Regions from separate parts of the Homo sapiens genome. Here region 2 is linked to region 1. The links come from fine-mapping of genetic effects on gene expression. Tissue or cell type: whole blood. Region 1 holds a variant in brackets; the other region holds the start of a gene. All regions are shown on one strand. Distances are between the middles of the regions.

Region 1 (2,764 bases):
CTCTGGCAGTAATTTGGTCATAAGGAAGGAATGTGTTATGTGGAGTAGCAGTTAATCAACTAAGCGGTAAGCAGGTTTTCAGTGAAACACCACCGGGAGCTAATCCCACTTAACATAAACTACAGTGACTTAGAGGGAACAAACTGTCTAACCCTGAGCTCTCTTGTTTCCCAGGAAATAAATCAGGATGAAGTCAAGAGACATCAAGGAGTTTACATTAAAAGGTCTTACTAAGTGATTGAAATATTCTTAAACTGGCTGGGCACAGCGGCTCATGCCTTTCATCCCAATACTTTGGGAGGCCGAGGCAGGCAGATCACTTGAGGTCAGGAGTTCGAGACCAGCCTGGCCAACATGGTGAAACCCTGTCTCTACGAAAAATACAAAAATTATCCAGGCGTGGTGGCAGGCGCCTGTAATCCAGCTACGTTAGAGGCTGAGGCAGGAGAATCGCTGGAACCCGGGAGGCGGAGGTTGTAGTGAGCCAAGATCACGCCACTGCACTCCAGCCTAGTTGACAAGAGTGAGAGAGAGAGACCCCGTCTAAAAAAAACAAAAACAAAAACAATTATTCTTAAACTCCTCCTGGAGTAGGATAGATAGGTAAATAAGTGATTATATCTGGATTTGGGGTCAAAGGAGAAAGAGGAATCAGGAAAAACTTAAGAGTTAGTAAGTCAGCAAATACTTACTGAGCACTTCCTTCTAGGTGTGGTAGAGTTGGGGTGGGGTAGGTAGGGTGGCTGTCAAACACTGAGCAAGACAGACAGTCCCTGTATATTCTAGTGCAAAGGCGGGAAAGCAGGGGCCAGATCATAAAAACTGGAACAGATAAATCAGTAAGCTAATTTCACAGACTGGCAAATGCAGTGAAGATGACAAAATGGGACCTGTGGCTACCGTAGGGGTCATGGACACTGTTTCTCTAAGGTGACATTTGAGTTGAAAGGCTGAGAGCCTGAGGGCTGGGCGGGGATATCCTCTCAGCCATGGGGAAGTTGGGAAGGAGGCTGAGTATGTGGAAGAGATGGTTAATAGAAATCAAACACAAGGAGAACCTTCAAAGTCAGATGATAAATCAGGTCCATACTAGGAAGATCT[T/G]TTCCAAGTTTCCCAGAAAAGTAAATCAAACCTCACCAGGCCTCTAGATGGTTTTAATTACCTTTTTGTAGGGCTGCTGAACAGGGTATTAGTCATATACTTGACAATAAGGACTTGTGGATTTTTCTCAGAGATATTAATGGATGGGAGTAAATTTGCATTTGAAATTTTATTTTTAAATTACGAAAATAACATATTACCAAAGTTAGAGAAATAAGAAAAGAAAAACTCTTATGTTCCCACTATCCTACCAGCCCTATTGTCTATTTTGTATATTTCTTGAAGACTAGGTCTCACTCTGTCACCCAGGTTATAGTGCAGTGGCGTGATCCTGACTCACTAGAGCCTCCACCTCCTGGGCTTAAGCGATCCTCCCACCTCAGCCTCCTAAGTAGCTGGGACTGCAGCTGTGCACCACCACGCCCAGCTAATTAAAACATTTTTTTTGGTAGAGACAGAGTCTCCCTATGTTGCCCAGACTGGTCTCGTCTCGAACTCCTGGGTTCAAGCAGTCCTTCTGCCTCACCTCCCAGAGTGCAGGGGTTACAGGCATGAGCCACCATGTCTGGCCTGTTTTGTGTGTTTCTTACAGTCTTTTTCATGTATATGATTTTAGATAGTTAATACATTGCCCTTTGAATGCATGACAGACATTTCGCCAATAATTCCTTGAGCTTATATACCATACTTATACATTTCAATAAGTACAATCAATTCTTGTTATTTGCAGTGGTTATGGTCTCTTAAGTCACTGTGAACACTGAACTAGCAAATACTAACCCTTTGCTGCTAAGGGAAATAGAGGATTAGGTTCTTGCGGGTGTCTGATTACATTTTTATCACTAATCAGTATATAACCTTGTTTTATGTGTGCTTCTGTTTAAAGACACCATACTTAATGTATCAATATATTGTTGGTTTATTAACATTGAGCTACAGCCAAGAGTGCTATCACCCATACCTGAACAAAGCTTATCGAACACGTGGATTTTTTTCTGTGAGGCATATCACAGCCGTCTTGTACTTAGGACACTAGATAGCACTTCAGCACTGTGCTTGGGAGGTGTTTTAGACAGCAACGTCACCAACAAAAAGCACAAAGATATGAAAAACATGGCACTAAATAGACCATGAAAAGGAACCTGCGTAATAGCCTGAGAGCTACAGCAAGAAGGCAGAGTGTGCCCTTTTTCAGCCTTAGCTGGGCACGTGCATGTCAGTGACTCAAATTTTTTGCCACTCTATGCGGATTCTCAAATGACCATGAAAGTGCCACAAGTATTGATTTTTGAGGTTACAAATACATTTTATCAATTAGACACAATTCAGAAATATGGAATCTGTGAATAGTGAGGATCAGTGTATTATTCTTCAGACTGTACCATGGCTGTACCATGAAACTAGGGATCTTGAAACTAGGGAAAGCCTCCCCAGGCCTTTGAATTACTGGAGTGGAGAAATGAAAAGGTTCCCTTTCTCCTGTAATATTGCAATTAAATGAGAATATGTGAGTCCTTTATAAAGTGTGTTTTGAGATCTAGCTTACACCTTACAACGACACAGTTTCTGATATGTCCTTTTGTTTGTTTGTTTGTTTTACTCTGAAACTAAATCATAAATGGCTCACCTTCGGATGCATACACAGACACTGCTACTCTGGTGT
Region 2 (2,764 bases), 50 kb before region 1:
AAGGAAACAACACAATAGCTAATACCTGAATGTGCCATTGTAAGAAACTTCTAGAGCTAACTGGCAAAGACCTGCTTTTATATTTAAGATAGGTAAACTATATTTTTGGAATTAAAAAGGAGGAAGAAGAATCACAGTGTTCGGGGGAATTCCTTTAGAACAGGCCATCTCTTCCCTATTCTAGGAGGCAGGCCTGGTGCTCTGGCCCTGGCTCACCTTTCTGGCCTTTCCCACCCCTCCCTGCCAAGCACCTCTGCTGCAGCCACACTGGCCTCCCCAGCAATCACGTGAATACCAGCTTCCCCCGAAATCTCATTTCCTTTAGGAAGAACTTCCCTGATCAGCACGTAAAATAGCATCGATCTTGACGCATCCTGTTTTCCTGCTTTTATTTTTCTTTATAGCAATTTCCACTTTCTGAATTTAAATGTTTATTTCTTTGTTTATTGCCTGACTCCTCTGAGATAAAAGCTCTATGAATTCAAGGACTGGGCTCACTTCTGTAGGACCTGGAAAAGCATGCCATTGACTCTTATCAAGCAGATGAAAGAAAAACATACAATAAGTGAAGTCCATAAAAAATAGAAGAACCCAACAGAAAATGGGCGAAAAAGGTGAAGAACAATGACAATTTCCTAGAGCTGCACTAATATAAATGTATGTGCATGAGGAATATTTGTATTTTTGTATAATATGTAATCCATTAAAAAAATTCCGAGAGATTCAAATGAACTAAAGTACTCGAAAATGTTTAAGCCCCCCGCGCAACAACTCTCGCGCCCCCTGTCGGCGCGCTGGTAAATTTCTGAGGATTCTCAGCAAGAGGACTGAACTCACCCTCCCTCTTTTACAAAATGTATTCTTGTCGCTATTTCATTGGCTGTACCTTTCAGACGCCCCTTTCACATTAGTCAAGCCTCCAGTCCATCACTTCCGGACCCAAGCCCTCTATTGGTCAGCTGTAGGCGACAGCAGACAGCGGGCCGCGCTCAAGCAGGAGGAGTTCCTCGGTGACGTCACAGACACTCCCCGGCTACATTCCAAGGCGTGGGCGGAGACTTCCCGCGGCCTCTGCCTTTGGGGGCGGGACAAAGCCGAGAATGAGACTTCTGATTGGGTCTGCTAGGCAAGGCGGATATCCAATTGGTCAAGCCTTGGAGGGAGGTGGGGCCGCAGCTGGGTCCTGGAGCAGAGCCGAGGAGCCCTGGGGTCCCTCAAAGTTTGTGTCTGGAGCCGTAGCGGCAAGTGGGCTTGCGGCTAAGGGATTTTCCTGGGATGAGAGCGGGTCTTCTGCCTTCATTTTGGATGCACATCCCGCTTTAGCCCCGGCAGCCTTTGGTCCGGCTCGTGTCCCTGGGGATTCTCGGATCTCCGAGGACACCGGACGGGAGCGCTTGGCCATCCTCTCTCCGGCAGAGGAGCAGACGTTTGCTTTCCAAGTGCAAAACTACAGACACGCGCGCGCACACACGCAAGCACACGCGGAGAGAGAGGAACCTTGCCGGTCCGAGGCAGCTCTGCGCGTCCCCTCCTGCGCTTAGCATCCTCGGCCCAGCGCGGCCCGCACCGCCATGGAGGTGCTGGAGAGCGGGGAGCAGGGCGTGCTGCAGTGGGACCGCAAGCTGAGCGAGCTGTCAGAGCCCGGGGACGGCGAGGCCCTCATGTACCACACGGTGAGGACCCGGCGGGCGGGGCAGGAGGGCTTTCAAAGCGGGCAAGTGTTGTCACGCGAGGAGCAGCTGGAGTCCTGGGACCCGGGAAGGCAGGGTTTGGGGCAGGGCATGGTCAGAATCAAGAGGTCCTGGGCGAGGTGTACTTTAATGTCTGAGCAGATGAAGGCGGGCAGCTGGCCCCTTTACATTTCTCATGAGAGTAATGCCACTTTGTATTCCTTTAACAATTCATGCTTTTTTCCCTGAGGCTTTTTCCATCTGTAATATCATTTGCTGTTGTTAACAGTACTGTAATGCGGGAGAGGGAGTGTGTGTTTTGAGAATAACATGCCTCCGCCTAGTTTGCTATTGATTTTTTTTTGAGGTTTTCAAAAACTGGACAAGATTAAGTAGCATTTCCTTTTCATCTGTCTCGTATTCTCTCTCCCTCTCTCCCTCCCTTCCTCTTCTTTCATATTTATATTTTAAAAAGTACACGTGTGTGTGTGTGTGTGTGTGTGTGTGTGTGTGTGTGTGTGTGTTGAAAGGGCTCCTCTACGTTAGGGAGAAAGGCGGCTTTATTTGCTTTCTTAAACTGTACGACCAAGAAGTCTCCTTCCTCCCTCTTCGGAGGAAAAACCAGCAGAGGAGTATGGAAAATCTGAGACAGTTGCATATTTAAGAAAGGCTCTGGGGAAGGTGGGACAGCTCACCAGTTGCTTGTTCAGTCTTATACTAATGCCTCAGAGATCTCTTGGGGGATTAAGCTGTCCCAGAGCACGCACATTTCTTTTAAAGTTTTTAATGTCAAGTTTTTGGTATTAAGTTTGCAAAATGAAATTTTGTTTTCAATAGCCAGCACTGATCATAGGACTTTATGCAAGATCTCTTTGTTTGATTCTTATCCATGCAGACGTTTGTAATGGGGGTGGGGCTGGGGTGAGGGGGGACACTAATGAGAAAACCACTGGAGGCTTGGCTGCTTCCCCTTCACGCTTTTTTAATGGGGTCAGTACCAAGATATTTGAAACTTTCGCAAAATGGCCTGCAGGCTCCACCTCTTTGGCCTTTGACTCTGGCTGACGTTATTTTGAGACAAGGAATGAGGGCCT

Evidence for each region. PIP is the estimated chance that this variant, and not a neighbour inherited with it, causes the effect.
Region 2: it holds the start of CREB3L2, and the variant in region 1 is fine-mapped to the expression of CREB3L2 in whole blood (TOPMed, PIP above 0.99). The same link has a PIP of 0.9 or more in blood mononuclear cells.

Annotation. Positions count from the first base shown.
Region 1 is chr7:137,950,609-137,953,372 of GRCh38, reverse strand. The region is part of intron 1 of CREB3L2 (cAMP responsive element binding protein 3 like 2); the gene reads left to right. CREB3L2-AS1 (CREB3L2 antisense RNA 1) reads right to left here and starts at 25. Exons shown (of 4, transcript NR_161346.1): 1 at 1-25. The variant T/G (reference allele first, on the strand shown) is at 1,102.
Region 2 is chr7:138,000,513-138,003,276 of GRCh38, reverse strand. It overlaps CREB3L2 (cAMP responsive element binding protein 3 like 2), which reads left to right and starts at 1,191. Exons shown (of 12, transcript NM_194071.4): 1 at 1,191-1,673. The coding sequence starts at 1,572. It overlaps LOC124901752 (a long non-coding RNA gene), which reads right to left and starts at 970. Exons shown (of 3, transcript XR_007060551.1): 1 at 887-970. RefSeq lists enhancers at 892-941, 1,172-1,241, 1,332-1,421, 970-1,567, 1,512-1,651 and 1 more.